Linked DNA regions of Homo sapiens: regions 1, 2 and 4 are each reported to be linked to region 3. The links are microRNA targets in miRTarBase. Many come from high-throughput screens and were not tested one by one. Region 3 holds a microRNA gene; each other region holds the end of a gene's coding sequence. Distances are from middle to middle.

Region 1 (7,119 bases), 150 Mb from region 3:
ACTAATGGATTGAGGGCCTGGAGCTTCATGGCTACAGTTTCTGCTCTCTCCTAGTGCTGATCAATGGCTTCTTCCGGTTCTAGAGTCTTAGGACAGAAATGCTGCTGATGTAGCTAAACTTAACATTATTATTGTTATTTTTGAGACAGGATCTCTGTGGCCCAGGCTGGAGTGTAGTAGTGTGATCTTGGCTTACTGCAGCTCTGCCCCCCAGGCTCAAGCGATCCTCCCACCTCAGTCTCCTGAGTAGCTGGGATTACAGGTGTGCATCACCATACTTGGCTAATTTTTGTATTTTTTGTAGAGATGGGGTCTCGCCATATTGCCCAGGCTGGTCTTGAGCTCCTGAGCTCAAGAGATTTGCCTGCCTTGGCCTCCCAGAGTGTTGGGAGGCATGAGCCACCACACCTGACCTGAACTTAATCTTTTTTATATGCCCACGTCATCACCTTCTCACAGTTTGGATACCGTTTTTAAAGAACTTGAACAAAATATTCCTGCCTACTATGTATATTCATTGGTAAGAAAAAAAAACTGTCTTAGGAAAATGTTCACTCATATAGAGAGGCTTCCAACATCAGGCTGGATATTTTTTGCATGGACAAGCCTAGGACTGTGCTCCAGTTACACCTATACACACATCAGAGGAAACCAACTGGTCGAAGCTTGAGGTAATGGCAAGCAAAGACTGGTGTGTTTTAAGAACATTCCAAATTTATGGTATTTTACCTCTAGAAGGCCCTTTTTGCTCATTTCCTTTCCTGAGTCATTTTAATCACTAAAACATGACCTCCTCTGCTTTTTGTGTCTTACCACAGTGGCATGGGCAGCTAGGTGGTTATGCTTCAGAATTAGAAAAAACAATCCTAAGATTTCTAGCTTCACATGCTCATGTTTCCTGCTACAATGTAATTGAGTGGATCTGAAAAACTGTAAAACCCCCAAAACTTCCAAGGGTTCACTAGAGCTCCAAAAACTAGGTCAGCCACGTGGCGCTTATACTTAACTCTTGGTGGTGTTTTGTGCTATTGAGTTGAATAAGCAATAGAGGAAAACATTTACATTGTGAAATATGCTATGACTGTATGAAAATATAATCTCTTCAGTAGAGAACAATGAAACTCATAAACCAGGATTTTCCTTGCAATATGTAGTGATGAATTATAATTTTTTAGCTTAGCTCTCTCTTGATTTGGTTTCAATATGTATAAATATCAATTGAGTCGTATCCTTGTATGAGATACAAAACTAGTGAAATATACTTTAAAAATTATTTAAGCATTTGCTGAGAGACCTAATGACTTTAATAAGGCAGAACAGTGATGAAACCAACAAATGTTTGAATTTGTAATGAAAGTATTAATACAACCTTCATTAAAATTGCTAAAGGATTAATTCCCTGATTATATAAAACCAAGAGAAAACAGCAACTTAAGTTTTTTTCCTTCATTACTATTTGGGAAATGTGAAGATGATCACAGCCTGTTTTAGATAAATGGTGAGTGGGATATTTTTACTCAGAACTTCTGAAACCAGATGTGTGGGTTTTTTCCACACCAAATTCTCTAACTCTCCAGACGCCAGCTAGGTGTCCTACAATTCAATTCAGTTCTGACACTCTCTACCTCAAGTTAGTGTCAGATCCTACAAGTTAAAAAACTCAGTTCCACAAAACTGCCCCAATTCAGATGCCAGTTGCAAGTCCCAGGGAACCACCCATACTTGTGCTGAGCTATGAATGAGGGGTTCCTATAACCTCCTCCCCTGGTTTGTTAATTGGCTAGAACAGTTCACAGAACTCAGGAAAATACTTTGCTTATGTTTACCAGTTGATTATGAAAGATACTACAGAACAGCCCAATAGAAGAGACGCACAGGACAAGGTATGGAAAGAGGGGTTGGGGGCTTCTATGCCCTCTGGGTGTGCCCCCTCCTGACACTTCCATGTGTTCACCCACCAGAAAGCTCACCAAATCTAGTTGTTTGTTACAGAGCTTAATCTCTGGGCCTCTCCCTCCCCTTTCTGGTGGTCAATGGAGAGAAAGTTCCAAGCCCCTAATCACTTGGTCTTTCCTATGGCCAGCCCAGAGATAACCTTTGTGAGGCTATCAAAGGGCCCCAGCCTAAGCCACCTCATTAGCATATAGTCTGGTGTACTTACAAAGGATCATTATAAATAACAAAAGACTCTCCTATCACCCTGGAAATTCCAGGGGTTTTAGGAGCTCTAGGCCAGGAGCCAGGACAGAGACCAAATATATATATGCCACAGGGAGATTTTGAGCTGTCAGGTTGAGACCATCCCTTGTTTCAGAATGAGCATCAACTGCATGGGATTGGTTAAAATGAGGTAAGTATGCCAGAATGCAATGGAACTGATAGCATCATCATCTATCCTCATCTGATGCCAGGAAGTTAGGAACTAGTGAGTCCATGGCAGAGGATACTGTAGCTCTTTCATGTGGTGGTGTCCCATTCCAGATGACACTCGCCCAAAGGCACAGGCAGCTAAACATTAGGCTTTTGATTTTTCCAAACAGACTTACACCGGCTCTGTGTGATGTCATTTTATTTGTGTTTTCCTTATCGGTTAAATGAATGTTTAAGGTCAACTTCAAAGTATCAAATGGAATTGTAAGGGTATGACTTGTGAACTCATATTTTTCCCAAAGAAACGCAAAACCATCCACGCTGTCTGGTAGCTTTCTATTGACATCTAGCACTGAGGCATACAGTACTTTAAACTGTGACTAGTCCAAATGGATCCCATGAGTTCCTCAAGAATCAGAACCAATCTTGTTCCAAGTTCTAGCACAGTGCTTGGCACACAGGATCTGTGTACGGAATGAGTAGCAGAGATGCTACAAGGGATGCAGATTTTTTTTTTTTTTTTTAAGATATAATGCAAGTGAGAACTAGATCTCTAAAAATTAGGCTGACAGATCCTTGCTGATGCCAGACTTCTTTGCATTCCCCTCTACCACAATGCATGCTAGCTAAGGGGCAGAACCAACCTGGATGTTCAGTGGGCATGTGATGCATGGTGATGAGATACACGAAGGGCACTACCAGTTCGGCTCAGCTCTAATGGACAAATGTGAGTGTCTTGCAGTTGTTATGGGCAAATCAAGCTATAAAAACACTTTGTGATCTTTTAGTGGACTTGACCATAATCTATAATCAGCTTTGGGGCAGTGCCTGTGAGTTATTTTATTTAAAATGATCAGAACTCAAAACAAAAGATATAAAAGACAAAAAACTAACAAAAAGAAATTAAAAAAAAAAAGAATGATCGGAACCCTGAACCTAATTTATTCAGCAGGCCTCTATTTGAGCTCATCAAGTAACCAGAAACATCTTGATAAATATCCATTCTTCCAATTACAGAAACGTTTTAAATCTCAATTCAGCGAAGGACTACTTCTTCTGGTCAGCTGGTATAACTGGCATTTAAAGACAAAATAATGTAAAAGGGAAGTCTTTGGTTTTGCAATAATTAAATGACATATAGAAAACTGAGAAGATGTAGACACTTAGCATTCAGGGCAGAGTATCTGTAGTGCTGCCAAATCCGTGGGTGATGGTGGAGAGGTTTATTGGTTCCCTCTCTCACTCCTGATTGTGTTAGAAATAGAAACATCTGCCTCATCATAAAAAGTCATGATTTAAGAAATCTCCCACTGGTCATAGAAAGATATGTGTAGAAGATTCTGGTTAATTATTGAGCAAAACCCTCCTTGGGCAACTGGGAATTGTTTCTTCAAGGAAGTGTCACCCAACAGTCCAAGCATGTTCACAGATGAAGTGGCTGTTATTTCTATCTATACATCCTGAGGGTATGAACCACACATCCTTCTGTGTAAAAACATGCCAAGCACATTCTTCAGAGCCAGTAAGCAATAACTTTGTCTGAAGACTTGCTCAGAACTTTCTCTGAACATCTGCTTCCTATTTACTATGACCTTCTGCTCCAAATATACCTCTAATTCTAGTAAGTGCCTGCTCTAAAGTTGAATATCTCTCTTCTCAGGAAAAAATAGTGAATCCATTCTAATAAAGCATACTCCTTTATAACTGAATTTCTCTTTTAAAAAAGTAAAACTCTGTAGAAAACTGACTTCAGCAATGAGCACATAGTAGTCCAATTGGTTTACTTAACCCAGGGACAGATTTCTTTGATCAGATTTCTCAGAAATACGAACTGTGTTTGATGTGTCCAAAGCACTGCCTTGGTGTTTAGTGCCTTTTGGTGGCCTCCATTAAAAAAAAAAACATTCTATGCTATATAAATCTCTGTGCATTATCAATCTATGTACCTGATGTTGCTCAGTGCAGTGGTGTTCTTCACAGGAGACTGGTTGACAGGAGAGCTGAGATGGAATATCTACTGAATAAACCATACTTTTCTCAATATCAAGACTGATGAAAGCATACTATGAATTTCCTACTATAGCCTAGGGGCAAAAATATGAAAACACTCCATATTTTCATTGGTTCCCATTATTTTTGGAATAATCTTCAAAGTTTGAACATGTGTCTTTTATTGTTAAAAATTTGAAAACAGGATGGAACTTTCGTTCTAGAAAGGTGTTCATCTGATAGGCACAGAAACAGACTCTGGAGGGTTGTTGGCTCCAAGCCACACAGGTGGCCAGTGGTAGTACCAGGCCCAGAATCTGGGCTCCTGGCCCCTAGCTGCAGACCCCTTCTCCAGCCACCAGGTTGGCCTCTGGGGCTCATCTCTCAGGCAGCATTGTCAGCTCAATGCATGTTGATGTCATATATTTTTGACAAATCAAATGTTTAGAAGAAGTTACTCTTTTTAGTTAGCCTCTTTCTTCTTCTGAGAGCTCTGGTAGGAACTCCTGCCCAACCTCTCATTAAAAAGTATGTCAAGAAAATATTTTCTAGATTTCTGCCAGAGTAATATAAGAAGAAAAATAAATGGAATTAATGGTTGTTCTAACTGTAAGCAGTTTTAAATGATTATTTTAGAAGCTTATCACTTTTAACAGTAAACAAAAGAGGTCAGAAGAAGTACTCAGTATTTAATAAATGGCCAAACACATTTTCCCGAATATTCTTATGAGAAAAAAGTAAGCTATCAATATTTTTTATTTCTAAAAGCCAATTTAATAAATTAATAAACGCATGCCAGAAAAAATACCAAATTACAACTGAAAACCAATAATAATTTAACAGAAAATGCTGTGTTGTACACTTTTTATTGGTATGGATAACCTTTATTAAAGTAACAAATCTGAAAACACATTTTGCTTTTGCTGGAAAGAAAGTACTATGTTAGAGAAGAACTAAGAGAAACCAGAAATCATTTGTAAAATGTAGGCATGTGATATGGTTTATGGTAATGTAACAGCCAGAGGTGCTGTTTTATCCATTTGTGTGTGCGTGTTTGTACAAGCATCAGAAACCAATGACATAGACCCCAAAAGCAAAGTCACAACAGGCTTACTCTGTGAAACATGCTGGATTACAAGCACAGACTACCCAGGACGCAGAGGCGGTGCAGGCGCAGGTTTGTTGTTTCTTCTGTATGGGGTTTCCTTGCCAGATAGGGGGCTAATCATGCAATAGCTTGAGTTTCTCTGAACGTGATAAACACCCAGGATTACTAGAACCAGAAAGCGTGTGTTCACTGTTTTACAAGACAGCTGAGCGGTGCTACAAAAACAACAGAAAGTTCCTTCACTTTAATCTGGTTATATGCCCAAACCTCTAATCAAGAAATAATGCAGCTACAGGAGCAAATTAAATTACTATAAAACATTCCTTCATCTGTAAAACATTTCTTTTCCCCTCAAATTAAAAATTTAAAATAAAATGTCTTCGTTTTTGATAAGCAGCTCCACCACCAGTCTCTGATACCGTATATCATTCAATGCAGCCATGGCGTCTAGTTCTGGAGATCTCATAAGGGTGGGTCCAAAGACGATTCCAAGGTTCTCTGCATTCATAAGATTCTCCTTTTCGTGGAGGGTCACTCTGAAAAATGCAAGTACAGGAATAAATGACTTTGTGTAAGCCATATGTTCTTCATTGTGCTTGAACACTAAAACAACAAGATTCACAATAAAAGTTTGCGTCCGCTTATCAACTCTTCCACTAGGTTATTTCTCTGTAATTTCAAAGTACTGACTTTCCTTAAAGTAAATTATGTCAAGAGATAATTTAAACTTGTGGTAATCACTGAGGCTCAAGCCTGAGTTAATGTGCTGCACTGTATGGATTCAGTTCTATCTATGGATCCTCCTGCCACAGCCCACCTACAGCCTATAGTTCTAAACCTACATTTGCAAATAGCTGAGAAGGAACTGGGTCACCTTGATTTAATCCACCCACCCTCCCTTCACTCTGGCTGTCTTTGCTATGGAGTAGTTTTGCAAGTAGACAGTTGAGTAAGTGTCTAGGAAGAGAACAGCAGCGACAGTAATAAGCAATGGGTAGGCACCATCGTCAGGGAGGGTATGTGTTTATATGCTTTTTACCACTGCACAGTAACACAGAAAATATGATTTGAGAGTTAGTCCTCTGTTTTAGTGTGGAACACTTAAATACATCCCAACAGGAAGCAATCCTGAGTTTATAAGCGAAGTTGTAAGCACATTAAACAAAGGTTTTAACTCATGGTGCTCTTAAAGAGGAAAAATGTAAACATTCATGAGTGACTAAAATATCATTTTTATATAACTCATGCCTTTGGCCACATACGTATTTTTGTTTCTGATTGGTTTTATACTTTGAAAACCTAAAACCACTAAAACTTGGTCGTGTAATTTGGAAATCTTTGCTTCAACTGATAGAGATCGAGGGTGACCAAGTAGGGAGTAAAGCTGCATGACTATCGCCTGAAAACATCAAACCACAATTAACTGAAATACTTCGTTTTCCATTCCTCCCTTTATCCCTTACTTCTTTACTCCACCACTTTTTACATCAGTTTGCAGTGTTGGCAACAATAATTCAATAATCGAAAATCCTGTCACCAAGTTTGAAGTGCTTTTTTTGGAGCAAGAAGATAGGAAAAGTGAGCTGCCTTGCAAGTTGCAAGTTGCAAGTTGCTTTCTTCTTGCTTTATTATGCAAGTGTCTTTACAGCCAC
Region 2 (7,119 bases), not on the chromosome of region 3:
GTTCTCCCTCTTTCCTGCTGCAGCCACTGTTCACCAGTCCTACCCACACCATGCCACACAGCTCCATGCCCACCAGCCGCAGCCGGCTACCACGCCTACTGGAAGCCAGCCGCAGTCCCAGCATGCGGCCCCCAGTCCTGTCCAGGTGCCTGCCATGGGGGGTGCTGAGTGGTCCTGGTGCAGGAATGGGTGGCCAGAAGAAGGGATAGAGCTAGGGGTCATTTCTGAGTGGCGAGGACTGGGGGCCAGCGAGTTGCTGGCCTGTGTGGCACTCAACCTTCCCCTCCCCAGCAGCATCAGGCGGGGCAGGCCCCACACTTGGGCAGTGGACAGCCACAGCAGAATCTGTACCACCCAGGGGCCCTGACAGGCACGCCGCCCTCTCTGCCACCGGGACCTTCTGCCCAGTCCCCTCAGAGCAGCTTCCCCCAGCCAGCCGCTGTGTATGCCATCCACCACCAGCAGCTGCCCCACGGCTTCACCAACATGGCCCATGTTACCCAGGTAAGAGCCCAGCTGTCCCACTTCTGGGTCTGTTTGCCAGGGCCCGTCTGCCATGGGGACCATCCCATTGCCAAGTCCCTGGTGCCACCCTTGCCATAGTGCTCCCTAACTCTGGCTCTCAGAGTCTGTTTCAGGATTCTGTGGTCTTCCCGGCTACTTTTTTGTTTTCCACAGGCCCATGTCCAAACTGGAATCACAGCAGCCCCGCCCCCTCACCCTGGGGCTCCCCACCCGCCCCAGGTGATGCTGCTGCACCCACCCCAGAGTCATGGGGGGCCCCCCCAAGGCGCGGTGCCCCAGAGTGGGGTGCCTGCACTCTCAGCTTCCACACCCTCACCCTACCCCTACATCGGACACCCCCAAGGTGAGCAGCCTGGCCAGGCGCCTGGATTTCCAGGAGGAGCCGATGACAGGATTCGTGAGTTCTCATTAGCTGGGGGAATTTGGCATGGAAGAGCTGAGGGGCTGCAGGTGGGGCAGGATGCACGGGTTCTGGGTGGGGAGTGAGGGGTCTTGGAGGCAGGGCTGTCCCACAGGGCGCCCGCCGACCTGCACCTGTCTGTGAAGTATGTAGGGTGGGCAGAAGCCACAGTCGCCGCCGCCAGGGGCTTGCTCCTGGCTCTGTCCTTTGCTTCCCTCCGTCCTCGCTCAGTTGTGATCCAGCAGCCCCCCTCCCCACTGCCTCCCCAGCTCTCAGTGACCCCGACTGTCTCCTGACTTAGCCGAGGTAAGGTCAGTGCAGCAGACAGGGCCAGACTGGGGTGTGGGGGGCTGAGCTGGGCACATGAGTGAGGGCTCTGGCTTACTGGGAAACAGCGATTGACCTGTGCTTCTGACAGCCCCCGAGACACCTTGAGGAGGCCGCTCCTTCCCAGACACACCCCCACGCCCCCACTGGACGGCATTGGAGGAAGGGACAGCTGCTTGGGTTCTAATGCTCCTGCTCTCTTCTCTTTCCCCTCCAACCAGTTCAATCTCATCCCTCCCAGCAGCTCCCCTTCCACCCCCCGGGGAACTGAAGATTGTCCTGGCCGCGACCTGAGACCTCCATGAGTGGAGGGAAGAGTGATCTATGTCTCTTCCCCCAGCAGCTCGGACCACTCCCAGCCCCCCATCCCCCCGTTCCCCAGGGGAGCTGGGGAATTCCTGCCAAGCACCTTGAATGGGAGGGGCCTCACAGAGGGCAGGGCCAGGGTCCAGCAGGGGTGGGGGGTTCCTGCTCTGCCCCTGCCCGTCCCCACCCAGTCTTGCCCTCCCATCCTCTCATCTATTCCCCCGCTGGAGACGGAAGATCTTTTATTTTCTATTATTTATAACTTCAGACTTGGGCCCCCTGTTCTTTCTTTCCCATTAACTTGAGTGACCTGTGTGAGAGACAGACAGATGCCCCACGAGGATGGCTGGACAAGGACTTTTACTTTTTATTACATAAAAATATTAAAAAATAAATAAAAAAAATAAAATTTTAAACTAACTTAACCTGCCTGGAGTTTCCTCCTTGGAGACTAGAGTGGGGTGACAGCTGTCAGTCTTTTGTGGCATTGATAGGTGCTGCATTGTGACCTGTTCCTTCACCTCCATGTAAAAATCGTGTCCAGTGGCCAGCCATGGTGGCTCACGCCTGTAATCCCAGCACTTTGGGAGGCTGAGGTGGGCAGATCACCAGGTCAAGAGATGGAGACCATCCTGGCCAACTTGGTGAAACCCCATCTGTACTAAAAATACAAAAATTAGCCAGATGTGGTGGGACATGCCTGTAATTCCAGCTACTTGGGAGGCTGAGGCAGGAGAATCACTTGAACTCGGGTGAAACCCTGTCTCTACTAAAAATACAAAAATTAGCCTGGCGTGGTGGGACATGCCTGTAATCCCAGCTACCTGGGAGGCTGAGGCAGGAGAATCACTTAAACCCAGGAAGCGGAGGTTGCAGTGAGCTGAGATCACTCCATTGCACACCAATGGTGGCCAGTTTTTGAAATCTAGGATGATGGGGAGCCAGATCGGGATCCTGTGCCATGCATTTGAAGGTGGGTTCCAGACTTCATGTGAAGTTGTGTAGTTGATGACTGAGGTTCTGGATGACCGGATGGCTAAAAGCACGTGAGATGGGAGTCCGCTTCCCAGGATGGGACAGCAGTGGCACAGTTCCCAAGGATGCTGTCCCTGACTGGCTCTGGAACTGCTACATAGATAGCTCACCCAGCTGTCTAGTGACTATTTTCTCATCTTGAACTTGGCTTCATCTCAAGGTGTGATTCAAAGTTTCATTTCTAATATGAGTATCTCATGAATTACATACACCTCTTTATGTTGAAGGGTGAATGTTTATGGTCATTGGAATTAAAATCCTGATGGATGTGCAGCTGACTGTGGATGAGAGCTGTAAAGGTGAAGCTGTTAGTGGGAGAAGAGGGGAGAGGATTGGTTGGGAACTGGGCTTACTGGGGAGCAAGAGCAAAATTAGGCATTATGGGTGGGACAAGAAGATTGAAGCATGGGATGTGGAAATGACAGCAGGCTCCAGAGGAGGTAGTTTTTCAAGGAGGTTGAGAATTCTCTCGGAGACTTGACCTTGGTTTCCTTGCCTAAAATGGAGGTGATTTCACCTTTCCAGGATTTTAAGGAAGTGGCTGGTGCTCAGTGGTAGACGGGTGTTTCAGCTCTCACCAAAGCCAGAGAAAGCTGGCTGAGACCAGGACAGGAAGAGTGAAGGCTACAGTATTGGGGAAGAATCCCAGCATATGCAGATTTGGAACTTGGTAATAGGTGTACATGGTGGGGTGGAGAGAAGGGGTTATTAAAGAGGTTAAAAAAAAAAAAAAAAAAAAGGACTTTATGTGGTAGCCACTTGGATGCTAAAAATGGGCGGGGTTGGAGTCCCAAGAGCACTCAGCAGGTAGATGTGGGGTGGTGCAGGAGCTGCAAGGCTTCAGCTGGGCTCAGGATATTTGAAGTGTAGATGGAGAGACAGGTATCTACTATGAAATATGGCAAGTATTACTGGGTAATCTTTCAATTTTTTTTTTTTTTTTAAGAGACAGAGTCCCATTATGTTGGCCAGGCTGGTCTTGAACTCCTGGGCTCAAGCAGTTCTGCCTTGGCCTCCCAAAGTGCTGGGGATTACAGGTGTGAGCCACCACACCCAGCTGAGTAGTCATTTTGATGCTTTCTGGAAGGACTGCAGATTGTACAGCAGTCCGCCCGCATCTGGGGGGGATGTGATCTGAGATCCCCAGTGGATGCCCATAGTACCAAACCTTATGTATACTATGTTTTTTCCTATAGCTATGATGAGGTTTAGTTTCTAAATTAGGCACAATACTCTTGTGCTTCGGGGCCATCACTGAGTAAATCAGGGCTACTTGAACACAATCATTGGAGTGCTGTAACGGTCAATCTGATAACCAGCACGGCTACTAAAGTGACTAACAGGCAAAGGGATGGTTCACGTCCTGACAGGATGGATGGAGCAGGATGGCAAAAGATTTCATCATACTACTCAGAATGGTGCTCAACTTAAAATCTGAACTGTTAAATAGAAAATTCTAGGCCAGGTGCGGTGGCTCACACCTGTAATCCTAGCACTTTGGGAGGCTGAGGTGGGTGGATCATGAGGTCAAGAGATCGACACCATCCTGGCCAACATGGTGAAACCCTGCCTACTAAAAATACAAAAATTAGCTGGGCATAGTGGCGCATCCCTGTCGGCCCAGCTACTTGGGAGGCTGAGACAGGAGAATGGCTTGAGCCCGGGAGGTGGAGGTTGCAGTGAGCAGAGATCGTGCCACTGCACTCTGGCCTGGCGACAGAGCGAGACTCTGTCTCAGGAAAAAAAAAAAAAAAAAAAGAAAATTCCAGCTGGGTGCGGTGGTTCACGCCTGTAATCCCATACTTTGGGAGGCCGAGGAAGGTGGATTATTTGAGGTCGGGAGTTCGAGATCAGGTTGGCCAACATGGTGAGATGCCATCTCTACTAAAAATACAAGTTAGCCAGGTGTGGTGGTGGGTGCCTGTAATCCCAGCTACTTGAAGGCTGAGGCAGGAGAATCACTTGAACCCGGGATGCAGAGGTTGCAGTGGGCCGAGATCGTGCCACGGTACTCCAGCCTGGGTGACAGACACTGTCTCAAAAAAAAAAAAAAAAAAATTCCAGAAATAATCAGACCAGTGTTGACAGTGGATAACTGAAACCAGGGATAAGGGCAGAGACTACTGTATGTTTACCATCTTTGAGCAGAAATCTCAAAGTTGGAAGGGAACTTAGCCTTCAGCCAGCCAGAAATTCCTCTTGGCAGCCCGTCAGCCTTGCCTTGAGCACTGAGGAGAAGACAAATCTGCCCTGTCATTGGACTTCTTTTTGCAAAGTTCTTCCCTCTTCCTCTTCTCTCACCCACTTCCCTTAGTTTGCCTCTGTTCTGGAGTCAAAAATCAGGTTTTGCATTTTCTCAAAACAGCTCTTAAGTTGGGCCCAAGAGCCCTCCCTTCTGGGAGCTCATCTTAGCCATCCTGGGTGTGTATTCATTTGTCAGGATGCATTTGTGATAGGGGTGCCTGTTAACCTCTGCCGAGCCTTGCTTTGCTTGGTGTCGGCATCCTTGCCAGTCATCACTCCCAAGTTTTTGAAATTCACTCATAGTTTATTCCCTGCATATTAGAGAAGTGGCCTTTTTCTTTCTTTTTTTAAATTTATTTTTTCTTTCCTTTTTTTTTTTTTTTTTTTTGAGAAGGAGTCTCACTGTGTTGCCCAGGCTGGAGTGCATTGGCGCAATCTCGGCTCACTGCAACCTCCGCCTCCCTGGTTCAAGTGATTCTCCTGCCTCAGCCTCCCAAGTAGCTGGGATTACAGGTGCCTGCCACCACGCCCGGCTAATTTTATTTTTAGTAGAGACGGGGTTTCACCATCTTGGCCAGGCTGGTCTTGAACTCTGACCTCATGATCCACCCGCCTCGGCCTCCCGAAATGCTGGGATTACAGGCGTGAGCCACCGCGCCTGGCTATTTTTTCTTTTTTATATAGAAACAGAGTCTCCCTATGTTGCTCAGGCTGCTCTGGAACTCCTGGGCTCAAGGGATCCGCCTGCCTCGGCCTCCCAAAGTGCTGGGATTACAGGCATGAGCCACCACGACCGGCCTTTTTCTTTTCTTTTGAGACAGAGTCTCACTCTGTCGCCCAGGCTGGAGTGCAGTGGCGCAATCTCGGCTCACTGCATCCTCTGCCTCTCGGGTTCAAGTGATTCTTGTGCCTCAGCCTCCTGAGTAGCTGAGACTACAAGCGCAAGCCACCATGCCTGGCTAATTTTTTTTTTTGAGACGGAGTCTTACTCTGTTGCCCAGTCTGGAGTGCAATGGTGTGATCTTGGCTCACTGCAACCTCTGCCTCCCAGGTTCAAGCGATTCTCCTGCCTCAGCCTCCCAAGTAGCTGGAATTACAGGCGCCTGCCACTACGCCTGGCTAATTTTTGTATTTTTAGTAGAGACGGGGTTTCATCATAATGGCCAGGCTGGTCTCGAACTCCTGACCTCAGGTGATCTGCCTGCCTTGGCCTCCCAAAGTGCTGGGATTACAGGCGTGAGCCACCGTGCCTGGCCTCGGCTCAAGTATTTTTAAATCAAGTTTTCTTAGACATTACACACTTAATAAGTTGACCCTTAAGTGATTGGGGTTCAAACTGCACAGATCCACTTACATGTGAATTTTTTCAAATACAAGTTACACCGAGTCTGCCTGTCTCCCCTTTGGCCTCCTCCTAAGAAACGTGAAGACAATGAGGGCCTTTATGATGATCCACTTCCACTTGATAGTGAATATATTTTCCTTATGATTTTCTTAACACCTTCTCTAGTTTTATTGTTTTTTTGTTTTTTTTTGAGATAGAGTCTCGCTCTGTCACCCAGGCTGGAGTGCAGTGGCGCGATCTCAGCTCACCGCAACCTCCGCCTCCTGGATTCAAGCAATTCTCCTGCCTCAGCCTCCTGAGTAGCTGGAATTACAGGCATGTGCCACCACACCCGGCTAATTTTTTTGTATTTTTAGTAGAGACAGGGTTTCACCATGTTGGCCAGGCTGGTCTCGAACTCCTGACCTTGTGATCCACCCACCTCAATCTCCCAAAGTGCTGGGATTACAGGCGTGAGCCACCGCGCCCGGCCACTCTCTAGTTTTAAGAATACAGTATATAATACATATAACACACAAAGTATGTGTTTGTATGCTATCAGCGAGGCTTCTGGCCAGCAGCAGGTTACTAGTTACATTTTGGGGGAGTCAAGTTATATGTGAGGAGCCAGACACGGTAGCTTACACCTCTAATCCCAGCAGTTGGGGAGACCAAGGTTGAGCCCAGGAGTCCAAGGCTGCAGTGAGCTAGGATGGTGCCACCGCACCCAGCCTGGGTGACAGTGAGACCCTATATCTCTTTTTTTCCCTTTGTTCAGCCTCCCCATAGAGACCGTCGAAAATTGCCAATGCTGATTATATTTCAAGTCATCATGGAGTCATTGGCTATGATACTGCCACTGCACAAAGCTGGCCCCATCTCAAAAACAAGTTATATGTGGATTTGTGGCTGCATGGAGGAGGGCTGACACCCCTAACCCCTGCATTGTTCAAGGGTC
Region 3 (7,119 bases):
TGGATGAGAAAGGCAGGTGCATTTCAGTCTGTAACTGGTACGACCCCTGCAGATGTTTGAAGGAAGATTTTGAGGAAGGTGCTCGCACCCTTGCATTGGGAATGCTGATGAGTTAGCGCCTCTACTTCACAGTGATTTCCCCAAAAGATGAGCTGCAAGGCCTAGACCCTGGCCCTCCACCCAGGACCTGCGGCGAGCATCATCACCGTCTGAGAATCTTTGGGTGGGCTGGAAGTTGATGTCAAGCTGTCCAGCCTTTCCGTCACTCTCCATTCAGAGGCAGGTCTGCGGAGAGAGATAGGAGGGACAAGCTGGGGACAGCATTTTTGGAAAGCAAACAGAAAAGAAGCAAAAACTGTTCCTCTAAAATAGAAAGGAGGCTTATGTGTGTTATGTGAAGGATAATGTGGAAGGCTATTTCCAAAGAATTTCTCAAAAAATGACGTGAGCCATGTCAGCATCATTGAATTTAGATAGAGGCCAGGAGCAGTGTGGCATCGTGCTGGGGCCACCAGGCTGGGGACTGGACAGATGATGGTTTCACCTCACCCCTGCCACCTCCTTGCTGCGTGTCATTGGAAGATCACTCAACCTTTCTTAGGCTCAGTTTTACCATCTGTAAAATGGACATAACTTCACAGGCTGGTGTTGTTTGTTTTGAGCATTGCTTCTTGGACTAAACCTGGATATTTTTTCCTTCCCTCCCTCGCTTCTGCACTTCCTCTGGTTCTTTGCCTCCCAAGAAGCCTGTTTCCTCCTGTTCCCTCCAAAACTCCAAGTTTTGAGTTCCCCCTTCCTGGGAAGGTCCATTCGTCATGTTCTATTGACTCTCTTGTTCCCAATTATTCCCTGCAAACCTGGTTCACCCAGTGTATTTGAAGAGCATCTACTGAGCTAAATGGGAGTTATTGGGGGTCAGTTCCTGTTTTCTTTTTAATAAGGGGAGGGAGGGTCTGTGCAGAGCTGTCCGGGAGAGCAGAGGGCATGGGGGACAGGGGGGATGTTGCAGGACCCAGTGGGACCACAGCTGGGACCTTGCCCTGTAGCTGGCTCAGTGTGCCAGGGGATAGGGGCACAGAGCCCTGGTGGGTCTGGGAGATGAGCTTGGGAAGGACTTGGCCTGGACATGGGCTAGGCTGCCCTGCTTTCCGAGCCAGACCTCAGGAGATGGCAGAGAGGGCCGCTTCCTCTGTGAGGGCCGTACATGATGGCCCTTGGGCTGTATGGTGGCCTTGTGACATGCAGCCACACCCCTGGGGAGACCTTTGAAGCATCTCTGCATTCTGGAGGATCTGCTGGGAAGATGGCTTCGCAGCGGGGCTCTTGTTGATGCTGCCAAGAAGGCCGGGTGGGAGTCGGGCTGTCTCTGGCTGGGGGTGGGGTGGGGGCTGCGGTCCATCCGAGTGTGGAAATCCACGTTTCTCTGGTTTGTGCAGACCTGTGCAAGCAGCCATGCTGCAGGACTGGCCCCCTGGAAGTGGGGCATACATGAACTCAGGGTGTGGCGTTGTAATCAAATGAAATGTACAGCATAATTAATCTGGCATACCCTTAATGATATGCATAATTGTGCTGCATGGTAATTAGGTGTAAATGGTAAGCAGTTCACATAAATGTTTTTGTAATTGGTATTAATTTTGCAGAGGCAAACCAAGTTTATGTGGTTTTTCTCTTCTTGCTCTGTTAGTTTTCTAGTACAGGCATTTCCAAGCTTTTGGAGGAATTCTATTGCAAATGTTTGTTTATAGGGCAATGTTTTGTGTTTTCTCTCAGAACAATGTTATGAATGGTTATGAGGTTCCCAAGCTGGTTTCCAAATGCCTCTTTGGCCCATACAGTAGGTGAAATGTGCAACGCGTGTGCCTGTGTCGGAAGGCCCGCCCAGCATCCTCTGGCTCCAGGTGCCCCAGCGTGTGCAGCATGAGGGGGGCTGTGTGCGTGTGTGAACCTGTGCGCCTGGGTCATCTCTGCATTTGTCTAGGTATATCTCTGTGTGTGCATCTATGTGTGTTTGTATCTGTGTGTCTGTGTGTGTGTGTGTGTGTGTGTGTGTGTGTGTGTGTGTGGGGTCTGCATGACTGTGAGAGACTCCTGAGGCCACAGTGGCAGGTAGACATTCTCTGGTAAATACATTCCCCATTCTAGTGGCACGGGGCCTGGGCTGGAGACTTAGGGGCATCAGCTGGGAGGGGGAGCCTGGCACAGCAGCCGTTCCTAGGAGTGAGCACAAGCCACTCTGAAGTGTGGTCTGAAGCCAGAGTCTAGGTTTCCTAAGAACATATGGCTTGCCTTTCTTTCTGATCAAGCACATAATAATTTTTAAATGATCATTTATTGAGTACCTGCCACGTGCCAGGCCCTATGTTAAACACTTGACTCAGATTCCCTCCTATCTTAAAATAGACTTATGAAATAGGGACTCTTTCTCACCCCGCTTTACAACTTGGGAAACTGAGGCCCGAATCTCTCAGTGACAGAGCCAGGGTTTGAGGCAGGGACTGCTGGAGGCAGGGCCCATGGTTCTGAGATGTGCTGCTCAGAACCCTGGGCTCTTCTCCCTCCCTCGGCCCCCTCCACAAATGGTTTGTTTTTGTTGGGACAGACGATGAGGAGAAAGGCGGCCCTGTGGGAAATCTGAGAGCAGCGAGCTCCCTTCCTGCTGAATTGGTTGGGGTGGTGGGGGACGAGCTCCAACAGCCGCTCCCAAGCCCTGAAGACCCTTTGGGGGACCTCCTGGTTTTGACCCAAGAGGGAGCTGGTTTAGGAAGTGGGGTTGGGGGACTGTGGCCATGGACGGTGTGGGGAGAGGGTGGTCACAGGCCAGACAAGGACTCAGCCCCCCTGATTCCTGTGGTTCACTGATAGCCTAGGCCCTCACCAACCCCTTCACCTTGGGGATCTGGGGCAGGTGAGCCTGCAGACCCACAGCAGGTGTATGTTCTGCCCTCGGAGCTCCTGCAAACAGCCTTTCCACTGACGCAGTGCCTTGGGGGCTCTGCCAAGCGACCCCTAGAATGGGGATTGTGGGGGGTCGCTCTAGGCACCGCAGCACTGTGCTGGGGATGTTGCAGCTGCCTGGGAGTGACTTCACACAGTCCTCTCTGCCTCCAGGGTCACCCGGAACGGGGTTGCGGGGGACAAGCTGTGGGCGGGGGGGACGGGCAGCAAGATACAACGCATGAACTCTGACCTCGTCTCTTTGAGAAATCAGACACATCTATATACGCATGGAACACTCAATGACCCCTGGGTGGGTGGTCGAGGAGAAGGGGACGGTGTTTTGGGGGAGGAGAGATGTTGGGTTGAAGGACTGGGAGAGAGGAGCTGAGTGGGCCCTGTGGGAGAGGGTGGGAGCCAGGGGTGTCATTCCGGGACAGCAGCCGGGCCTGGAATGATGCAGCTGGGAGAGGTGGGGGCACGGCCAGAGCAGTGGGCGGAGGCTGCGTTGTAGCCAGCCCTGGTGAGACCAGGCCAGAGCGTATATTTTACCACGTGTGCAAATCTTTGGCATCACCGGATTTTTAAAAATAATAGCTTTAAGATATAATTCACATTCCATACAGTTCACCCATATAAGTGTACAGTTCGATGGTTTTAGTACATTCACAATCAACTTTTTAAAATTGTCATGAGGTGTCATAGGTTTTCATAGAGGGAGCCATGTGTGGGCAATCCTTGCTGATAGGGTGGGGTGGGAGGTAGAGATGCCAGAGGCAGGTGGACCCGCTCCAGGGCATCTACCAGGTTATTGTGCCACAGACACAAGAGGTACAAAGGGCCTGGAGGGAATAGGGGGACGAGAGAAGCCCAAGGACCAGGTACCTGCTGGATGTGAGGACCCAGGGGAAAGGTGGGACCTGAGTTTTCTCCAGGGTTTGGGACTTAGGCAGCTGAAGGGAGGGGAATGTTACTTCCACATAGAGGGAAAAACCAGAAAATAGAGCCGGCTCTGAAAGAAGCATGTTCTGGAAGAGTAGGATTTTAGGGACTGCAAGTCATCCAGTTGGGATGAAAATAAATAGAGCTGGAGCCCCTGGCAGTAGGAGGCGTATGTTAACTTATGCCCAGGTGTCTTAGAGGAAGAGCATTTAGAGAGAAGCTGAAGGTAGAACATGACCTTTGAGGAGCACCCACCGTGCAGAAGTGGGATCAAGACTCCCGGACAGCCCCAGAGACAAAGCTGCAGAATCTGAGGCTGGAGACCCAGAAGCAAGGAGCCAGATGGAGTCATGGCTGGGAGAGAACACACAGAAGGCAGTTGCTGGTGAGCTCCAGAAGCAGGGGTCTCCTTTCACTCCAGGGCCCGGCTCCACAATGGCACTCAAGAAATGGCTGTTGAGTGAGTGCTTGAAGCAGGGAGTGATTAGCTGGCCAGGATGTTGAATTGAGCTCAAGGGCCATGAGGATGGAAAAAAGCCCTTTGGGGCCGCGGGTGACTGTATCAGTCAGGGTCCATTCAGAAGACAGAAACCACATGGTGATTGGAACAAGGAAAGTTTCACATAACGAATTATTAACTCTAATTGGATTGGAATAATGAGGAATTGGCTAGTAAGAAGTAAAAATAACTCCAAAGAATACAAAAATAATAGATATGAGAACAGCCCCTACCTCTAGGGTTGCCACAGAGTGCCCAAGGAAGAGGCCCCGCAGGGTTGAGATCCACACCTTGATGGAGAGGGTGTGGCGATGGCTCCCTGGATGGCAACGTCTCTGTAATGCCATGTTGGCAGAACTTGCTGGAAATCCACCCTCTGGAATTTACTGGAAATCCATCTTTTTGGGTCCCAAGGAAAGTTGTTTGTGGGAGGTATCTTGCTGGAAGCACACCGCTGCTACGTTTTCCCAGGGGAGTGCTGGGAGAAGCTCCTGGCTGTTGGGTACTCCTGACTGACGTGTTGCTGGAGCCAGGTGCTGGAGAAGCTGTCTGCATTGCAACAGCCTGGCACTCCTGCAGGAGCTGGGCACTGGAAAGCTGCATGCTGGAGAAGCTGCAGCAGCACAGGAGCTGGGTGCTGGGAAGCTTCATATCTGGCAAGACCCTGATGCTGGGAAGCGCCCATGCAGCAAGATCTGGCTGCTAGAGAAGTTGTATACAATGCAGGAACCCAACAAGAGCACACTGGGTCTAGAAAGGAAACCCACCTCCTCCTTCAATGCCTCTTCAGTGCCCTCCACAGTTGTGCCAGCTGACAAAGGAAAAGTAGTTAAAGGGCCCAGCTCCATCTTCACAGCACAGGCAATGATGGGCGAATAAACTGATAACTGGCACAGTTTACCCCTTTGGCTGCACAGCTTCCATTTGCACCTTTCTACAACATCTGAACTCCCATACAAAAACAAACAACTGGATGTCTACCTATCAAGATAGTTATCCTTCTTATGAAATTCTCACCCTTTTGCCCAGAGAGCCCCAACCATCATTCTACCAATCCCTGGCTACAATAACTTCTCAAAGTCAGTCACAGTCTCACTGAATATTCTGTTACCTAAAGACTACATTATAAAGCTAACTGTCAACAACTTGTATAGAAAAGAATGGGAAGGAGAAAAAAAGAAGAAAATGGTTACCATATTGCAAACACACCACACACACACACACACACACACACACACACACACACACACACATATATATCAAGTTAATAGAAAATGTGCAAAACCACTAGAGGCCTGGTTTCTGCATTTGTTCACAAGGCTACACTTTACACTTGCTACCTGGCTTCATTGTCTTCTTATCCCATTCTGTGTTTCCTCCACACTCAGCCAGAGCCTTAGCAGGTCATGCTTCTTTTACTTGGTGGAGTAACCCAAACCCTCATTCCCAAAGGACCTGAATCCTTAGTTATCCCGCTTTTGTTGTTGTTACCATAACTTTCCATTCAGCCTTCCTTTGGGCATGGACGTTCTTAAGAGGTGCCTGAGAGAATTCGCTGGGTTCCAGACACAGTCTTGCTTGGCTCTGTGGCTGATCAGCAATCCAGTTTTCTCCTTGGTAACTAGGATCAATCACTCCAGACAGTGGCATAACTCCTTTTTTCCACTGTCAGTTCAGTGGCGTAAGGAGTTCGAGAAAGCCAAGTGGGTGTGTGTGTCTTCTCTCCCAGGGAAAGCATTATAATATGTCCCTGGTGGGAGCACTCTCCCCCGAGGACGAGGTCAGCATCCCCAGAAGGTTTTAGAGTTGTGGGGTGGGGAAACAGGGCCACGCGCAGGGGACTAAGTGATAGAGGCTCTGGAGCTGGCAGCTGTGGACCATGCTGTAGAGAAGGTTGGAAAAGTAGAGAAACATGCAGATGACCGTGGGCCGCTTCCGCTGTGGATGATAAAATCAGACCCATGCTGGTCACTGCCAGACCCCATCCAGGACCATGTGTCTGATTCTCACATGGACTCTGTGCCACCCTGTGCCCCTGACTCCCAGGCCGTGGGAAGCCCATCTGACCCACAGCACGTGTGACCCCTAGACAGGGCTTCTCCTGGCTTGCAGCACTTGGAAATCGGTGCTGCCTTACGGAAGTCTGTGTTGGCTCATTTTGGCTCCTGAGAACAACTTCAGCTCCTTAACAGCATCTATTTTAGGTATAAATCCCCCCCCCGCTCACTTTTGGGGCTGTGTCATGGCAACCATTAGTGTGAGCAAAGCAGTCTGACTCAGACTCCCATGTGGCCGCCGTAGTGGCAGCAGGTTTGGTGTGATCATAAGTGCTCCTGCTGGTGGTGCCAGTGCTGGTGGTGCCAGTGCTGGTGGTGCCATGGCCTCGAGAGTGGTGTGAGAGCCACAAGCCGTCTTATTGTGACTCTAGAGCCAGATAAATCAGCTTTGCAGAGGGCAGGACTGCTGGCCTGTCACCAGTGGCTTTTGGTATTCTATGGACAGCTGGTAGTTTGGGTGCAAGTAATGTTTCTGAAAGTCAGGGCAATGGAATGGTGATGGCCATCTCACTGGAAAATGGCACCAAGACCCCCCTCCCTCTCCCTCCTCCTTATCCATCCCCAGTCTTATGACCAAGAGAGGTTGTGACAGGAGGGGGAAGAGTTGACAGATAGACATCTCCGTCTAGGAGGTCTCCTCCACTTTCTCCTGGCCCCTAGCTGACCCCTACCCTAGCAGATGAT
Region 4 (7,119 bases), not on the chromosome of region 3:
AACCTCCGCTTCTCAGGTTCAAGCGGTTCTCCTGCCTCAGCCTCCCCTGCCACACCCAGCTAATTTTTTTGTACTTTCAGTAGAGACGGGGTTTCACCATGTTGGCCAGGATGACCTCATGAGCTGCCTGCCTCAGCCTCCCAAAGTGCTGGGATTACAGGTGTGAGCCACCTGGGGATTCTTTTTACAGCAACATTTTGCATTGAGATTTGAAGTCTTACAGATTTTTATGATTATCTTTGCTAAGAAATGGTTGTGAGCTATATTTTACTTGCAAGTAAGTTCAACTACCTTTGATTCATGGCAGAAAATTCCTTTGGGACTGTAAAGTTTTCCAGCGCTTCATGGTATTGGCGTTCAGCAGCAGTGGGACCATGGTCATAGGTGACGTGCCCTGGCCCCTTGTGCTGGTCATTAGGGATACAGCTCAGTGTATCTCATGAACTCAACCGTGGTGCCTTCTGAGACTTTAAATTCAAATTATTTGTATACTCTCTTGTTCAGTGATTCTTAAAAGAATTTGTTTTGTTCCCAAATGTCTTCTTTTTAATTGTTGTAGAAGAAATGAGGAACAAGTGAAAAGTTAATGAGCAAAAAAAAAAAAAAAAAAGTTGGTTTATGTTTGCATTTTTAGAATGTAATTTGAAAAATTACTCCTCACTAAAGGTAGTCGTTTTTTGCTATATATAAGCGGCAAAAGAAAATTTACTATTTTTTTGCATTAGAGAGACTCCAAGTTGGCTGCAGAAATTTTTCTAGAAAATAAGATAAATCTGATGGGAAAACTAGTAATCGGATATCATGTTGTGCAGCTGACTTGTTAGAAATCCTTTGACTCCCCAATAATTCGTGAACTCAGAGAGCTGAAAACATACAAACCACACCACCCCATGCATCTTTTTTTGTCTTAGTCTTTTCTGCTCTGTGTTTCTCTTGGTATGGTGCACTATAATTGGCTCCTATAGAGAGAAAATAGCAAGTGAATCCCAGGACATATTTTTCTCTGCACAGAAAATATGAGTTAAGCCAAAGTAAACAAATTGCTTTCACTACTCACCAGATAATAATTGTATTTTGTTTTTATTTTTAGGAAATTCATACCGAAGTGCAGCAAGATTGTCATTGACTTTGATTCAATTAACAGCAGACCGAGTCAAAAGCTTCAGTGAGTTACATCTCATTCAATCTCCAGAAGATTGGGATTATCGTCTTCTAAGAGGTTGCTAATGCCTTTCATCTTGAAGTTACACATAACTTCTTACTAGCCAGTATGGCAAAAGTAGGCATCTAAAGAATATAAAGCCTCAAATCTTCCTTACTGTCTCTCTTGTCACATGGAATCTACATGTGTTTGAACTATTGCTTTAGGGTTTAAAATAGGGGAGCCTGTGGTGGCCTGGTGCACAGGGCTAGAACGAGAGTGCCTCCCCTTCTTGTGTCCTGGCTGGCTGGGATGCTGGTGGCTCTTCAGAGGAGCATCAGCTGTCTGTCATCTGCTGCGATCCGGCAGCCTCTCTTCACTGCTACATGTGCTGGAAGGACAAATAAATAATTGTGGTTGTGTTCTTAATGGGGACGAGCAGACACACTGATCTGAACATCTGGCCCAAGTGAAGCATGGCATATAGTGCCCTTGGAAGAAAATTAGGCCTCAAATGACAGTAGCATTGAAGTGTTTGCTGCAGAGTTGAGGGAAACCCCCAGCCACCCTCCCGGAATCCGAGATAGGGTGGCACATCTGTCCTGACAGACGAGGAGTGTAACTGAACCAGGAATATTTCCTCCATTCCTGCTCTCCCACTGCACACAGGGTGGTGGCACATTATCCCTCTGGGGGGTGGGGACGCCTGTTGTTTTGGCTCAATTTGGGTTTGTTGGTCACATGGAGCTCTTCCATTTCGTTTAGCTGAATAATGAGTTGTTCCTAGAGGAGACAGCCTGTCTCTCCTTGTTGCCCCCAAAGCCCATGCCCTGCCGTGGTGGCAGCTGGGGCTGTGGATGGGAGGGGTCCCCAACATGGATGTGTTGCCCCTCCTCCGCATGCCAACGCAGTTCATGTACAAGGCCCCTCTGCAACTGGAGAGAAAATTAATTCCTATCCCGTGAGTGGATTGTGAGAAATTCCACCCACGTGGAGACAGCTTACTGCAGCACTGTTGGTGTTCGGAGCTCTTCTGTGCCCTGGCTCCATGCTTTCACCTACACAAGCATCACCTTCCTAATCACCGCGGGGCGGGGAGCGTGTGGCTGTGCCCCTTCTCTTTAATCTCATTTAATTTTTATTAAACATGCTCAGTACCTGTGTTGAGAAAAGGCTTTCTTTATCCTAAAGATTATTACCTTTTTAAAGTGCTCTTATATTTTCATGAGTTTTTATTTTGTCTCTGAGATTTTGTATTCCACATTCTAGGGTATTCTGTAATTTGGCTCCTTACCAATATTATTAAAATCTTATTAAAATCTACCCTACCAAAGCATGTACATTTTTATGTTATTATAATTATATGCTTAATTTTCTGCTCCTGTCCTTTCTGTATTGTCTCCGAAGCATATTACATATGTTTTAATGCTCAAAGAATAATTTGAGATGCCCAAGCTGTGTGCGTTCCCCAGGGTTGATGTCTGGGGCTGCTTTATGGATCAGATTTATGTAAAATGCGAAGGCAGCCGCTAGCCCTACGCTCTCTCCTGTGTACCCTGCCCCTGGTCCCAGGTGTGGCCATCTATCTGGTAGGGCCCAGGCCTCTGTCCTCCCGGAAGGCTTCAGTCCTGAGTTCTGCCCTTTGCTGACTTCTCACCTTATCCTCTTTCCAAGTCTCTCTTCTCTTCTCTCCTAAATTTCCTTCTCTTTTCTCCTCCAAACTCCTCGCCCTGTGTTTGCTCCAAAATACATAAAACAAAAGGTATGTGGAAAAAAGAATCAGTAGACTTAAAGGTAGAAAATTAGAGATTTCTCTATTGCCGCAAGTCACAAGAGTTGTGAGTCCTGTTAGGATGGAGTGTGTCATTTTCATCACATCACATTGATAAATATGTCTAGGGGCTGATAAGCCAGTAGGGCATCTAATTTATGTAATTTTGATACTATCTTATATCTTGTCTGGTTGTTACATTCAGTTTCAGTGAAAAAAAATTGACTTTTTTCTTTTTCTGTCTTTGAGGGGAGGTTGACAGGAAGGGTCCTTGCTAAAAGGGGAGTCCTGGTACTGAGGTCAGTTGTGGGTGTTTATTTGGGGGCAGATGCTGTCGCTGGGGGGTTGTGATGCTTCCACCTATGAACCGACCCTGGTCTCCTGGTGACTGGAGTGTGAGTGATTATGTCTTCGTTTCTAGGATCACTATAAGAATAGTAGAATTGTCCTATCCAGAGAATTCTGCAGATGTTCATGTTCCAGTTAATAGAGGTTTGCTTTGAACTGGTGCCTTGGGGAGAAGCTTTCCAGAAGGAGGGAGTTTTGTGCAGTCTTTTGCCTCGCAGGCATTACTAGATAATTGTGGTGAAGGGAGACTGTATCTGAGCCAATGTTGCTGCCTGTCATGGCTAATAAATGACAATAAGGAAACCATCTTTCACTGAACCGTTGGTAGAAGGACTACATTTAAAAGGCAGAATTTGTGAGTGAAATGATAGGAACTCCATTTCCCTGACACATTTTCTGCTTTCTTCCCTTTTACTCTTTTAGCAGTCTGTCCTTAAAGACTTCTGAAGCCTGACAAGACCCAGCAGTGAAAGTGATCTAATATATTAGCCATCTTTTCCTAAATTAAAAATGAAGCAAAATAAGAGAACAAGCATACAAGCTGAGCTCATGAATACAAATGTAGGCTTGCAAGCCCGGTGAGCTGAAGTTCCTGTGGCCCTGGTGTAATTTTTGATCTTCCAATGTCTGTATCTACCTGAGGATTAAAAATATTTAGGTTGTTGCAAAAGGGCCTGAGGAATGCAGGGAGGGAGTTTTCTCATTGGCGAGGCTGATAAGAAGTTTTAATATTTATAGTTCACTTTTGTTGTTGTTGTTAAAGTAAAGCCACTCTAAAAATGGTAGTTTCTACAAATCATTAGCCAGGAAGCCTGTCTAAAGCTCCAGGGAAGGACCAGAACTCAAGGTGGGGGTGCTTTGCAAGCTCTCTTGTCAGGGAACCGTGATGACTAGAGTTATGGATTACTGGCTGCAGAGGTGCCGGCAAAATAACCCTGGGCCCAGGAGTCACATTTAGAGCAGGGTGCCCCAGAATTGTTCTGGAGATACCTTTAGCTAGCTCGACTTTTATTTCGGAACTGTTGGAAGAATCTAAAGCCATTTCATCGTGAGGGTATATGAATCTCAAATAGTTACTGAGTACCTACCAGGTATTGGGTTCTCTGATGGCTCTTGGGTGAGAGTTAGAACAGAGTGGATAGCTAGATATTAGACAAGTTCCTTAGATGAAGCCCAAACTTGCCACCCGCATCCCTGAGCCGTGCAGGTGCCACCTGTACTTTATTTTCTGTGTGATTGGGTTGTCTATTATTTTGTGTCTGTATCCATTGGAGTAAGACCCTGGGGAGAGGGCAGGGACCAGACACGAAGTCCGCAGGAGCTGGGTTCTTACCCTGATTCCAAGGCCGAAGACTTTAAAAAATTCTACAAGTCCTGGCCGGGTGTGGTGGCTCGCACTTGTAATCCCAGCACTTTGGGAGGCTGAGGCAGGCGGATCACCTGAGGTTGGGAGTTCGTGACCCGCCTGACCAACATGGAGAAACCCTGCCTCTACTAAAAACACAAAATTAGCCAGGTGTGGTGTCGTGTGCCTGTAATCCCAGCTACTCAGGAGACTGAGGCAGGAGAATTGCTTGAACCCGGGAGGTGGAGGTTGCGGTGAGCCAAGATCGCGCCATTGCACTCTAGCCTGAGCAACAAGAGCAAAACTCTGTCTCAAAAAAAAAAAAAAAAATTCTACAAGTCCTTCATTAAATTAAAATGAGTTCAGTATTTCCCAAGAAAATCAGGGGAAGGGTTCTCTGTTGATGAAAGAAAAGCATACCGTCTGCTCACCGCTCGGGTGTGGAGCCCGAGGGTCTCAGGCCTGGGGCCTGAAGAAAGGTATTGCCCTTATTTTTGGTAGCCAACTGCCAATCTCTTCTCTGGAGCCCACTTTACAACTTCGCTTGGCTGCTGCCATTCTTAGCCATTTTTAAGATCAGTGGTATTAATTACATGCGTGTTGTGCAGCCATCACCACCATCCATCTCCAGAGCTCTGCATCTTGCAAAACTGAATCTCCATACCCATTGTACAGTAATTCGGTCTTCCCCCTTCCCAGAAATGACAACCACCATTCTACCTTCTGTATGAATTTCACCACTCTCAGTACCTCATATAAGTGGAATCGTACAGAATTTTCTCTTTTTGACTGGCTACTTAGCATCATGTCTTCAAGGTACATCCAGGTTGTAGCCTGTGTCAGGATTTCCTTCCATCTGAAGGCCGAAGAATCGCCCATTGTGTTCACATACTGCCTTTTGTTTAGCCATTCACGCACCAATGGACACCTGGGCCGCTCCCATCTTCTGCAGCCATCCTTTCCTGAATGTGCAGTGTGCCTCGCCAACCTGGCCCCGTCTGCCTCAGCCACCCAGCGGCCTTCCTCCCTGCACCAGTCACCTACCTTGAAGGATTTTTCTTTTTTAAAAATCAACATTTTTTTTCCTTCTTTTTTTTGAAACAGGGTCTCACTCTGTCGCTCAGGCTAGAGGGCAGTGGCGTGATCATATCTCACTGCAGCCTCAACCTCCTGGGCTCAAGTGATCCACCCACCTCAGCCTCCCAAGTAGCAGGAACTATGGACATGCATCTCCACACTAATTCCCTGGCTAATTGTTATTTATTTTTTATTTTTTGTAGAGACGGGATCTCACTGTGTTGCCCAAGCTGGTCTCAAACTCCTGGGCTCATGTGATCCTCCTGCTTTGGCCTCCCAAAGCGCTGGGATTGCAGGCGTGAGCCACTTTGCATGGCCTAAACCCAGCATTTTTAAGAGCCTCTTCCTGTGCTCCCTTTGACCATCCACAGTTTCCATGCATGTTTCAACACTGAGTTGGATCCCGCCCTCTCTGTAAAGTCTCCCCAGACCTTCCTGAGCTTGAAGTGATTTTTTCTTCTTTGAAATCCTGCAGCAGTTATTGTCAGCAACTGTCTTTCTGGCAATGAATCGTGTACTGTTTTATGATATCTCTTCTACTGTCTAGAACTGTTACTGAAACATGTCATTTAACTTTTCATATGTATCTTGTCCTGCTCTAACGAGGTTGGAAACTCCACAGAGCGCATGTGGCATCCTGTGTATCTTGGTGCCTGGCTACCATTTCTCTCCATGTCTGCACGGGACCCTATGCAGAGGGGCTTCATACACATTTTTAATATTTCCACTTAAAAGTTATAAACTTGATTGCACTTTAATTCAGTGAGGTAGCTGAGCAGGAGCCAACCTCCTAAATTATTTTTTCCATGCTGATTTCTTTGTGAATGGCTTGAAAAAAATTGTCATCTGGAATGTAAGAGAAAGAAATCTTCCTGTTAGCAGCCAGGGCTAATGGGCACATTTATCTTTAAGAGAGACAGGAGATTACTGTTTAAATGTCTTATTTTTGACTTCTGCGTTTCAGTTAAAGCATTCTTATATATGGGTTTGAATGAGGAATTTGGCAATAACAGACACTCTTGGCAGAACACCCAGAGACGATGTTTCCACTGAAACCCATCCGATTAGTGGATTTCTTGACCTTTCCAGGTCTTAAATCACTGTTGAATGCTTTCTGTTGTAGGAGTTCTGTATGTTAACTTTTGTTAATGAAAACTGTTAGAAACTTAAACATGCCATTTGGTCCAGGTTTTAAATGGGCATTCTGTTCTGGAATTGCTTCCTCTGCAGGGGTGGGCATGGTGTGCAGCCTTTTGATTTATTCTGCCTTTCCCCAGCCTCTGAATAAGTAGGCATTAGTAATGCATGTAGCTGTAAGTAACAGGCCCCTGACTCTCAGTGACTAAACAAGTAGCATATTTTTCCTCACATAACAAGTACGGTGGTAAGCATTTGCTGGAGTTGGGTCAGCTGGTCCATGATGTCTGCAAAGATCTA

Evidence for each region. Region 3 holds the annotated microRNA hsa-miR-1301-3p (UUGCAGCUGCCUGGGAGUGACUUC, at 3,066-3,089, shown strand). A microRNA usually pairs through its seed, bases 2 to 8, with sites in the 3' UTR of a target mRNA and lowers its output. Matches are read on the target gene's strand: a 7mer-m8 pairs with bases 2 to 8, a 7mer-A1 pairs with bases 2 to 7 and ends in A, and an 8mer does both.
Region 1: miRTarBase lists CHN1 as a target of hsa-miR-1301-3p. Seed matches in the 3' UTR shown: 7mer-m8 at 5,752-5,758.
Region 2: the mRNA of ATXN2L is a reported target of hsa-miR-1301-3p. The part of its 3' UTR that is shown has no 7-base or 8-base seed match.
Region 4: the mRNA of DCTD is a reported target of hsa-miR-1301-3p. The part of its 3' UTR that is shown has no 7-base or 8-base seed match.

The regions. Positions count from the first base shown.
Region 1 is chr2:174,794,285-174,801,403 of GRCh38, forward strand. It overlaps CHN1 (chimerin 1), which reads right to left. Exons shown (of 13, transcript NM_001822.7): 13 at 4,525-6,003. The coding sequence ends at 5,832. Among named protein-coding and RNA genes, the nearest start is that of CHRNA1, 33 kb to the left of the region's middle. RefSeq lists enhancers at 1,310-2,172, 2,173-3,034.
Region 2 is chr16:28,835,255-28,842,373 of GRCh38, forward strand. ATXN2L (ataxin 2 like) reads left to right here. Exons shown (of 22, transcript NM_007245.4): 20 at 24-145; 21 at 295-504; 22 at 679-1,978. The coding sequence ends at 1,011. Among named protein-coding and RNA genes, the nearest start is that of MIR4721, 5.2 kb to the right of the region's middle. RefSeq lists a silencer at 6,589-6,746.
Region 3 is chr2:25,324,621-25,331,739 of GRCh38, reverse strand. It overlaps MIR1301 (microRNA 1301), which reads left to right and starts at 3,019; the gene lies at 3,019-3,100. The region is part of intron 1 of DNMT3A (DNA methyltransferase 3 alpha); the gene reads left to right. RefSeq lists enhancers at 714-1,214, 1,215-1,715.
Region 4 is chr4:182,885,449-182,892,567 of GRCh38, reverse strand. It overlaps DCTD (dCMP deaminase), which reads left to right. Exons shown (of 6, transcript NM_001921.3): 6 at 1,091-2,477. The coding sequence ends at 1,169. Among named protein-coding and RNA genes, the nearest start is that of DCTD, 28 kb to the left of the region's middle.